3 linked regions of the Homo sapiens genome follow. The protein of the gene in region 1 interacts with the protein of each later gene in a pairwise test. Each region holds a gene or a part of one and is shown on either strand. Other genes may lie near its edges. The genes, in order: LIMS2, RCHY1 and SPRED1.

Region 1 (3,753 bases):
GCCCAGGATGTGTACTGTCACCGGCCTTACCGCAGGATCCACAGCACGGAGCAAACAGCATTTGGAAGTCGTGTTCGCAGTACTTCCGGCCTTCAAACTGCAAAGGGGTCGCAGAGAGAGGACAAGCAAACCACCTATCATCCCCATGAGCAGCCCAGGCCCTTGTTGGGTCAGGACCTGACAGCAGGGGATGAGGCACTGAGGCAGGGGCATGCCGGGCTGAGGCTGGAGCAGTGGGTCCCAGGCCTGGCCAGAGAGGACACTGGCCCTTTTGGGATGGTGGGGTGCAAAGGGAGGTGCCCCCGTGGAAGCTGGAGAGGTCCGTGAGGCCACCTGTCAAAGGGCCACTGGTGTCTACTGAGGATCTGGACCCTGTTGGTCCGGAGAACAGGCTGGGGGCGAGGCGGTTTTAAGCCAGGAGGGATGAGATCCAGTCTGAAGTGTAGTGTCACTTGGTCCTATTTCGTATACCTTCTCTGTGGGAGTATCCAGCTCTCTCAGAGGCCATGAAGACCCGGGTATAGGAGACAGAAGGAAGGGAACGCAGGAAGGGCCTGGGCACGGGGAAGTGGGAAGAGCTCAGGGCTGCGGCCAGCAGGAGCCAGTGTGCACACCCTCCAGGCGGCAGCTGCCAGCGAGGGCCCCTGTGCTGGCCACAAGCGGGGCCAAAGCCTGCCTCTGCTTTCCTCTAACAATTGTATTTTCTGTTTTTTAATTGGTTTTTCCCTGTTCTCTAAAATGAGTGTCTTATTAGACTAAACTGGATATAGCCCTACCCAGTGACCTGTAGAGTCAGGAAGGGCTTAAACTCTTTCAGCAATGAAAATCTTCTGGGCACCTGCTGTGTGTGAGAGAGAGAGGCTTTGTTCTGGGCATATGGCCACCCCTCCTAGAGCTTTGCCCACCCCTCCCGCTGCCTCTACACTTAGACAGCATTCCTCAGGAGGCTGAAGACACTGTGAGGAACAGCGGCTCTTGCTCTGCCAGGCGGACCACAGGCCCCACATCCATCCACCAGCCAGTCCCATCAGCTCTACCTTGAAACAGAGCCAGCATCTGACCCCTGGCCACCACCGCCACCACAAGCACAAGTGATGTTCTGGTAAATGCTCAACAGCCAGCTCTCTGGGGCGCAGAGGCAGGCCCTGCTGTGGGGCGTTTGCCAGTGTCCATGGTGTGAATATTCCCGTCATGGCCAACTCCTGGCTGCCAACATGACATCGATGTGGACTTGAGGGGAGATGTGCAGTGGCCACACCAGCACAATGGACAGAAATAACCCCATCAGCATAGACGATAGTAAAGTGGAACAAAATAATTAGCAAGTGGTATGCTTTGAGTATTTGTTACCTTTGTTTTTAATAAAATTGTATCCCATTGTACGCTGATATAATTTAATTTTTAAACAATAACTCTGTTGCCCAACCAGCTCCCAAGATTGTTGATGATTTAACGACTGCTCCTGTGAGCTGGTGGGGGCCCCTTCACTTTCATCTGGGTGATTGCACTAATTCAGCTCCTGGTCCCCCCAGCCTCCTGGCCCAGCCTCTGTTCCTGCCCCGCCTTACATCCTCTCCTCAGCACAGCGGCCACAAGCCTCCTTTTTTTTTTCTTTCTTTTTTTTTTTTTTTTTAGATGGAGTCTTGCTCTGTCCCACAGGCTGGAGTGCAATGGCGCGATCTCGGCTCACTGCAACCTCTGCCTCCCAGGTTCAAGTGATTCTCCTGCCTCAGCCTCCCGAGTAGCTGGGATTACAGGCACCTGCCACCATGCCAGGCTCATTTTTTGTATTTTTAGTACAGACAGGGTTTCACCATGTTGGCCAGGCTGGTCTTGAACTCCTGACCTCAGGTGATCCATCTGCCTCCGCCTCCCAAAGTGCTGGGATTACAGGCGTGAGCCGCCGCGCCCGGCCAGGTCACCTTTTCAAATGTCAGCAGATAGTGTGACTCCTCTGCTCCACACCCCGAGGTGGCTCCTGCCTCTTGCAGAGGGGAAGCCTATGGCTCCGTAGAGGCCCGTGGGGCCAAGCGAGATCCACCTCCCTTTCCTCAGCTCCTGGCCTTCTCCCTCTCATGCCCTCGGCTTCCATCACACCAGTCTTCCTACTGCTCTCCATACACCCCATGTTCTCCCACCACAGGGTATGTGCATATGCGGTGCCCTCTGCCCAGTATGTCTCCCTCCCCTCAGGTGTGCCCAAACCTCACCTTCCCTGAGCACCACCGCACCCCACCCCGGGAACCCTGACCCCCAGGGCATCAGCACCAGCTGGTGGGCCATGCGGTTGCTGTGCTCACTGTCTAGTCCCCAGGGAGGGCAAGCACCACCAGGGCAGGCTCTTCCTGCCCCCAGGGCCTGCCCAGCATCTGCCCAGAGGAGGCTGGTGAAAGGTGGCTCTCTGTTAGCACCCAGGGCACCTGGGGTGCTGTTCACATCTCACAGGTGAAGGATGGGCCCGTGCAGGAGCTCAAGCCTGGTTCTGGGCTGGCTCCAGACCTGGCCCTGTCACCAGTCGGGACCACTGCATGGAGCCCGGCCCACCCGCTCATAGAGGGCAGACTCCGAGCTGGGTCTGAGAAAGCCCTCAGTAGTGTCCTCACCTCATAGAAGAGCCCCTCGGGGAAGGGCCGGAAGCACTGGGCACACACGAAGCAGTGCTCATGGTACAGCTCCCCATTGCTGTTGACAATGCGCTCGGCGGGGGAGAAGCGGGCCTGGCAGCGCTGGCACACGGCGTTGGCCAAGGCGTCCGACATATTGCTGGGGGCAGGAGACAGGAGGAGTGAGTCAGAGCTGGTCAGGGGTGCAGATGGGGCACACGCGGGGGCCTGCGCCCGACAGACACACCTCGTATTAAAAAGTGAAGACGCTCTGCAGGATCAGGAAAATCGCTCTAACCCAGGGTCCAGGCTGCTCAGTGCTTGTAGTGCCCACCCCTTGGGGTGTCAGGGGCCCAGTCAACTCCCACTTGGGCCCCTATTACCCCTTCTTCAGGGACCAGAGAGTCTCGCACACAGAACACCACCCAGCACAGGTGAGCGGCTCTGTATTCACACTCTCATTTAATCCCCAGGGCAATACTGCAGCTACTATTATTATGGCCTCTTCCAGAAAAGGGACCTAAGCCTCAAAGAGGTTGAGTAACTTGCCCAAGCTCACACAGCAGAGCGGGGTCCACACTTGAATCCAGACTGCTCAGTCTTCCATGGTTCCATCCTCTGCACCATGAGTTAGTTTCAAACTGACTGCCTCCAATAAACACATAACCACCCAAACACAGAGCAGGCAAGAGGGTAGCTGGGTGCGTGTGCAGAATGGCTCAAGCCTGTCATCCAGAGCACTGTGGGAGGCCAAGGTGGGCGGATCCCTTGAGCCCAGGAGTTCGAGACCAGCCTGGGCAATATGGCAAGAATCCATCTCTAATAAAAATACAAGAAAACAAAAAAATTAGCCAGGTGTGGTGGTGCAAGCCTGTAGTCTCAGCTACTCTGGAGGCTGAAGTGGGAGGATGGCTTGAGCCTGGGAGGCCGAGGCTGAGTGCCACTGCACTCAGGCCTGGGCAACAGAGCAAGACCCTGTCTCAAAATAAAAAATAAATAAAAAAGACAAGAGTATGAATCTTTGAGACGAGACGGGAGTGTGGTGAGGGGGAGCAAATCTCATCCATACTGGGCACTGCCTGTCCCCAGAGTCAGTGGTGGGTTTCCTTCTGGGAGGGGTGAAATGCGAACTACAGGGGAAAAGCCCACA
Region 2 (3,753 bases), on another chromosome or scaffold:
AATAATCCAAATAAACTATAGATACAAATTCTGCGGCAGGGCAACCTAACTTATTTCAGGGACAGATAATTCTAGTGTACTTAAGATCTGTCTAAGTATTTAACATTCCTGTAAGCATTATAAAAAAGAATAGGAAAAGAATGAAGTTGTCTGTTAAAATGTTAACAGTAGTTCTCTCTGAAAGAAGGGATTGTTGAGAGTTTTTTACCTTCTTTCTTATAGAGGTATAACCTATACTTATGAAGTCAGAGAAAGAAAAAATATTTAAGGGTAAAGTTATGTATTTTAAGTTTTGCATACTGAATGGTAAGGGATGTAGATTTTATTCTTATTGTGAATGAGAAGTGTTGAAGGATTTTAATCATCGAGTTGACGTGTCATGAACAAATACTTGAAGCAACCCTGGGTACCGAAGCCTAGAGACTTTGAGTACATTTGAAAATTGCTTTAAGTGCATGACTAGACAGCATAAACGAGTGATTGCATATGTACTCTGCATTATTTTGGACATGTTTGGATCCTAAGTTAAAGAAACAATCAGATTGTGAAATAAGACTTTCTAACTAGAGTCACCTAAAAAAATGAAAGGTTAATCTATCAAATCATGAGCGCTTCAATGATATGGATGACTAGCTGTGAGGGGTATTTTAGCAAAATAGAAGTTTAGATCAAAAGCAATGTGGTAAAAGTGGGTTTGGAGTCAAACTTGGATCTGATTCCCAACTCCAACATATAGTGTCTGTTATTTACCCCCAATGTGTCATTTTAACCTCTAAACCTCAGCTTTCTTGTCTATGAGGACAACACTTACCCCACAGAATCATTGTAGTAATTAATGCTAATGCATGACCCAGCACAGATGTTGAAAACAGAAGAGCCTTATTATTATATACTCACTCCTATTTAAAGATCCAATGATTCAATGATTAAAAACAATAACATGATTGGTTTGGCAGAATAATACCAAACATAAAAAGTAATACATCTGGACCAAGCACAGTGGCTCATGCCTGTAATCCTAGCCCTTGGAAGGCCGAGGTAGGAGAAATGCTTGAGCCCAGGAGTTCAAGACCAGCCTGGACTTTGTTTCTACAAAACAATTAAAAATTAGCTGGGCATGGTGGCACACACCTGTAGTCCCAGCTACTCAGGAGGCTGAGGTGGAAGGATCAGTTCAGCCCAGGAAGTCAAGGCTGCAGTGAGCTACGATCACTTCACTACACTCTAGCCTAAATGACAGAGCAAAACCACTTCAAAAAAAAGTATTAGATCTGGAAAACTAGTCTTTACTTATCTGTATACTAATTGGTAATACCCAGGAACATCCTTTCCCAAATGAAGATCAGCACTGCTGCTCTGGCCAGGCCAAGGAAACAGATGAAGGGAAAGAACATAAGAAGAGTGGAATACAGAAGACAAGAAGGTGGGATAAAATAAAGATCTGAGTCCCAAACTGCTGCCTTTATCTAGGTGAATAAATTTCAACAAAAGAAGAAATAAATGTGCCAGAACTCTTAGGCTTTCTAGTTAAAAGGCTAACTTCCTTATTCAAAGAAGATTCAAATAGCTCAAAGTTGGAAATACAACTGGTGCTCAATAGGTACTTATCAACTGATAAATGTACATTTTACATCCTAGCCTAATGGTAAAGCTATTACGGAGATAACAGTGTCAAAGTCGGCTGGATCATCAAACATATTTGTTAACTTTGTTCCTGAAGTAAGAGGTATATTTAATTCCACTACATGAGCCCAAAAAAGTATTATGAAATCAGAGATCTTGCCAGGAATATCCCATGCCCTTCCCACTCATCCATCCCCTATTTTCACACGCTTAGGGAAGAAATATTCTATTCATTTACAATAAGACATCCACTCCTTGCATAAAGAAAAATGAGTACATTGATCAAATATGATGAACAATAGAATGTACTGCTGTGAGGACAAGGACTTTTATCTTTATTGTTCACTGTTGTCTCTACAGCATCTAGAAACATATCTGCCACATAGCAGTTGCTCAATAAATACTTGCTAAATGAAGGAATGAATGACTCTTTGAAGAAATAATTTTGGGCAACCTAAAAAAAACTGTTTTCAATGTTGATGTTTTTATTAAGGCTTTGGAAGAGTCTTATTATTTTACATAATAATTTTCCCAACTACTTTTATGGAATACCTCAAAAGAAAGAAAATTTCTTTTACATTATAGAACTGATGATACTGCCCTAATTGAGCCAAACATAGAAAACTTTGGAAAAAACTTTCTATAAAACAGTTTCAATATAATTTTATTAGCAGTTATTACATCAAAATTCACATTTAGAGGATCCAGAGGACTGTCTTAGAAAATTCTAAAGCATATTTAATTAGGTTTTAACAGTAAGGGAGAACTTAATATAACACAGCCCTTAAAAAGTCAAGACTACTACTGAAAATTAAGTGCAGTTCTATCAAGAACTAGAAATGAACTGCACGCGTAGTGTCACTTAAAGCAAAGCTTCATGAAAATATAATACACTTCTATGAATGTATCAGTGGCAAACATCATTGGCTTCCAAAAAACTGACACTAAAGGAATTTCCAATCAAAACACAAGCACAGTGGCTTTCATTCAATATAGAGCTATGATAAGTCTATCAAGAGACCCTGAATCCTTACGTACTTGTAATATGATTTTATGCTGTGACACTAGTACAAAACACATCAACTCTAATGCATAGATGACGACACATGATAACACGATACCAAGGAAAGCCTTTTTCTATATCAGAAAATGCCAAGTTCTCCAGTACTGTGTAGGCTCGTCATTGCTGATCCAGTGAAATTCTACGTCCTCCAGCTTGAGCAGTATTATAGGATTCACAAATCTTACATTTCATGCCTAATATATGAAACTGAACAGTGGATCGTCCATTACAGTCATTGCAGAGAATCTGAAAAGAGATTAATTCAAATTAAGTATTTTAAACCTTATAAATACAAGTAGCATTGTCTACTCATAATCCCTTGAAAATCATATTAAAGATGTGAAAATACATACATAAGTCTAAAAATTTCCAAAAGTAGAAATTTCTTCTTATTTTTTCACTGAAAACTCTAAAAAGCTATTAAGGTGGCTCTGAATTCAGAAAATGAAAAGGCAGATTTGAGCAAAAAAAAAGCTTATTTTAAAATAGTTTCCAAATATTAAATAGTATAAATAGTACAAGCAAGAAAATTAACCTAGGCATAATCAGATGAATACCTGATACTTATAATTCAAAATAACAACATGATTTCATTATTTTTCAGTCAGAAATGTATCTCAATTAATAAAACCAAAATTTTTACACAAATAATATTTTTGCTTATTTTTTAGGTTTAGTATACTGTTCCCTGTCTTCTCTGCCTTAGGAATGAATTAAATTCCAAAAAGAGTGTTCCTAAAATTGAGTAAACAGAGAGGCTCTTCGCTCATCCCTACAATAACAATAAGATGCCGTTTAAGAATTAATTTCTTCTAGTGCTAAGTAAGAACCTGAAAAATAACAAAGGTGTTAACCTGAAAATCAATACATTACTATGCAAGAAAAGCACTAGTTTTTGAATAGTCACACTATAATAAGCAGAAAATTTCCAAATTTGCTCTAAATTATAATTTGGAAAATAATTATTTAAAAAATATGATCTAAATGGAGAAAGTGGATTAGTGGTTGCCTAGGCCTGGGGCGTTAGGGAATGACTGCTAATGGGTATGAGTGTTTCCTTTTTGGGA
Region 3 (3,753 bases), on another chromosome or scaffold:
AACTGCCCTGTAACATGGATTTTATTTGGGCCTTACATTTTTTTCCCTTTTCTCTTTTTTAAAGCCATTGCTCATAGGGATTTAATTACAGTAGGGACTATTTTTAACATTCTTTAGTTTCTTTTTCACCTGATTTCAACCTTCAAGAAAAGTGAAAATCACCAGTTTCCTGGGAAACCATTAACCCTTTCTAGATAGCCATTGTGGTAAAATCCAGTAGGGCCTCATTCTGAAATCCTCGAGTACATGCTTATTATTTGAAATTAAAGTTTTATGTAGAGAAATGGATAACTCCTAGGCTGACTGTGAGAATATATTTAATCAAGAATTAGTGGGGGATCTGTTATGTGTAGGGCTTTGCTTTAATGCCAAACCAAGTAAGGAAGAAATAAATTAGAATAAAGCATTTCTTAGATTGTTTCACATTTATGTTTAAAAATCTTACTTTTCAAAAATAGTAAACATACTCTAGAGCAAAAGAATTTGTGTTATAAATAGTAGAGGAAATAGCCACATACATGTTTGTTTTGTAGGTAATTTGCACAGAGACTGTTTAATACTCCAGTCAAATGTTTCCGATAGATATAACTGTACCATATTTTACATTATTGAATTAGCCTTCTAAATAGAGTTTTAAACATTTAAAGGCATATTATATAATACTTAAGAGTCTTTGTCCTTTGGTATTGAGTGTATATAGCACTGCATGTCCTTTTGTCAATTTGGCCAAAACATTTGGAGAAGTGAAGTAGCTGAAATAATAAGCATTTGGCTTATTAGGTTCACGTTAGCCAGAAACACTTCCTGTGTCAGTATTAGGCTTTCTAATAGCAAGTTGGGATTATATTAGATTTTGGAATTAGGTTAACTAGAATTAGACCATGTATGATAAACGTACTATGTTGTAATCTGAGTTTGAACTGTTTTTCCGTAAATAGAAAGCAAATTTTTATGGTTATATCATTTAGTGCCTCATAAAAAATATACCCAGTGGTGAGTTATTTTTGATAAGTGTAAATAAACATATGTTCACCCCATACATTTTACGTATGTATATGTATGTACACACACACACATATATATATATATAAAATTGGAAAACATTCTAGAAATAAATGGAAGCACTGGAAAGCTGTGTAATATTAAGCCATCTAATGTTTGTTTATATAGATGTGGTGTATACATAATATAAAAATTTGCTTATTATTCAGTTGGCCTGTGTAAAAATCAGCTAAATGACTGCATACTTGCTTCAACTTAATTTCCCTCTGCTTTCTCACTTAAAACTTTATGATCCTGAATTATATATTTTAAACACATTATGATACCATACCTAGAATTCCTCTCCTTACAAACTTTTGTAAATTTGTCATTTTTCCCCAAAAGACCTTCTCTCTTCCCCTCTTTCAACACTCTGTCCCTCTATGTTGCCTCTGTACTTCGTACATATGTATATTAGTTTTAAAATCATATAATATTGTGATTATTTACTTATTTCTATGACCGCTATTCTGTAATTCCCTACTTTTGTTTGTATGCCTAGCACAGTGCTTGATGGCAAATGCTCTACAAATGTGGTTGAATTAATGGAGCCTCATTACCTCATTTTTTTGTTTTCTCTGAATTTATGCATTTGAGATCATTAGCTGTATTAGAAAAAAAGGCCGAAAAAGAGTATGGGAAAAGTAAATTATTACCCGTTTAAGAAGGCTTACCTTTTTTTTTAAGAAAAGACAAAAATTGGCCTCATTTTTGACATGTTTTGTTTCTGCAAGTTTGAGAAATAACTTAGATCAGGCTTAAAAACTGTCCTAAAGTGCTGTTGGGATGTTTGGATGTGCTTGGCCTCTGAGTTATGTGGTGTATCTGAAGACCCGTGTTATATCCACAAGAAGGTAGACATTTGTGTGTCTGTCTTTTTTGGCATAGGAAGCTCAAAATTTAGGAATATGTATCTCCAGCTGTTTATCAGTTTTAAGTCTTTAAATTGCTCTCCCTTTCCCCCATGGTTCCACATTAGTGCCAAGGGTGAGGAACTGACTAGGGATAAAGAAGTGAAATTGATCAGGAAAGGGTAAACAGCAGCAGATTCCGTGATTTTATACTGCAGCTGTTGGTGACTGAGAACTGCCTAAGGGGAAAGTGTAACAATTTAGCCTTTTCTCTGGTGTTGTATAACTTGAACTTGACTAGTCTTACCCAGTTTGGGGAAATGATTGGTAAAGACAAGCCTGCTTTTCTTCTCCATCTTTCAGTAGGAACAGGAACGACATTAAAAATGCCAATTTAAAAAATGCTTCACCCCATGTAAGAGTAGTAGTTTATTTCAGATAATGTACAAAATGATCTCTAAAGTGAGTAATAATTTATTTGCAATTCTGCCATTAAATAACAGCTGCTAAAATTTTGGTCTACATGGAAACCTTTCTTATGATGTTGGTGATGAAACATATTCATTTATTAGATTTTTACTGTATGCCAAGCACTGTTATAAATGCTTTATGAAAGCATTATGTAGTTTATATATATACATGTGTTTCTTCTCAGTGGAATGGAATTGCACAGTGGGTACAATTGTAGCTTAATGTGAATATTTTCTTAAGTCGTTAAATATTCTAGAATATAATTTTTAGTGGCTACATTATGTTCAGTGTATGATATACATTAGTTGTAATCAGTCTCCTATTGTTGGATATTTTAGTTATTTTTAAACAATGTTGCATACCATCCTGAGTTCTGTCTCCATCCAGATCTCTTACTTTTCCCTTGAGATAGTCTAAGAATGGAGTTAAAAGAGAGGAAAATATTTAATTTTATTCTTTCTGTTAAATTGCCCTCTAGAAAAGAAGTATTTAGTATATGAGAGTGCTTAAACTTTGAAATGTCTGTACAGTTGTCTGAATTTTTCTTTGCCAATTTTGAAGGTAGAAAATGAAGTCTTATTTTTTAAATGCTTTATGGTAAAATAAAATTGATTTAAAAACTTATTAGGTTGTTTTGCGGTAACTAGAATGTTTTTAAATGCTATATTATAAATAGAATTTAAGTGCTCATGTAAAAGCCATTTGTACATCATTTATTTAACTCTTACCATCTTCTGTGCAGTATGGTATAGTCTAAAGAACACTGGACTTGAAATTGGGAGATGGATTTCTTTTGTAGCTATTTTTAATTTATTCTCTAATCCTGGGCTCTGTAGGCCTCAGTTTGCTGATTTATAAATTAAAGAATTTGGACTAAGCATCATATGTGCCCTTCCTTTGTTGATGGTGTATGATTTAGACTTTGTTAATTTTATTATATTGTTATTTTTGACATACTTAAACAAAAGACTTAAGAGTAGAAGTGGTAGGAAGATTAGGTAAAAGCATGCATTTTGAACAATTAAGATACAAAATTTGGAAACAATTGGTATATTAATAGTCTTTTAAGACTTACTTTGGGCTTAATAGCCATGTATCTTTGATGACACAAAATTTTGTACTACTCAATTTTGTTTTTTATGTATTTATTTATTTTAAAGAGGCAGGGTCTTGCAGTGTTGTCCAGGCTGGAGGGCAGTACAGTGGTATGATCATAGCTCACTGCAGCCTTGAACTCCTGGGTTCAAGTGATCTCCCACCTGTGCCTCTTAAGTAGCTAGGACGACAGGTGTGCCACCACACCTGGCTAATTTTAAAATTTTTTGTGGTGATCGGGTCCTGCCCAGGCTGGTCTCAAATTCCTTGGCTCAAGTGATCCTCTTGCCTTGGC

The links.
Region 2: the proteins of LIMS2 (region 1) and RCHY1 interact in binary tests that used the Homo sapiens proteins (3 or more experiments, as listed by UniProt).
Region 3: the proteins of LIMS2 (region 1) and SPRED1 interact in binary tests that used the Homo sapiens proteins (3 or more experiments, as listed by UniProt).

Annotation. Positions count from the first base shown.
Region 1 is NC_000002.12:127,654,800-127,658,552, forward strand, and holds part of LIMS2 (LIM and senescent cell antigen-like-containing domain protein 2), read right to left. Parts: intron 3,418-3,753; exon of another isoform or gene 3,231-3,417; coding exon of another isoform or gene 3,163-3,230; intron 2,764-3,162; coding exon 2,604-2,763; intron 98-2,603; coding exon 31-97; intron 1-30. UniProt on the Homo sapiens protein: Adapter protein in a cytoplasmic complex linking beta-integrins to the actin cytoskeleton, bridges the complex to cell surface receptor tyrosine kinases and growth factor receptors. Plays a role in modulating cell spreading and migration.
Region 2 is NC_000004.12:75,479,735-75,483,487, forward strand, and holds part of RCHY1 (RING finger and CHY zinc finger domain-containing protein 1), read right to left. Parts: intron 2,933-3,753; coding exon 2,804-2,932; 3' UTR 1-2,803. UniProt on the Homo sapiens protein: E3 ubiquitin-protein ligase that mediates ubiquitination of target proteins, including p53/TP53, TP73, HDAC1 and CDKN1B. Mediates ubiquitination and degradation of p53/TP53; preferentially acts on tetrameric p53/TP53.
Region 3 is NC_000015.10:38,255,748-38,259,500, forward strand, and holds part of SPRED1 (sprouty-related, EVH1 domain-containing protein 1), read left to right. Parts: intron 1-3,753. UniProt on the Homo sapiens protein: Tyrosine kinase substrate that inhibits growth-factor-mediated activation of MAP kinase. Negatively regulates hematopoiesis of bone marrow.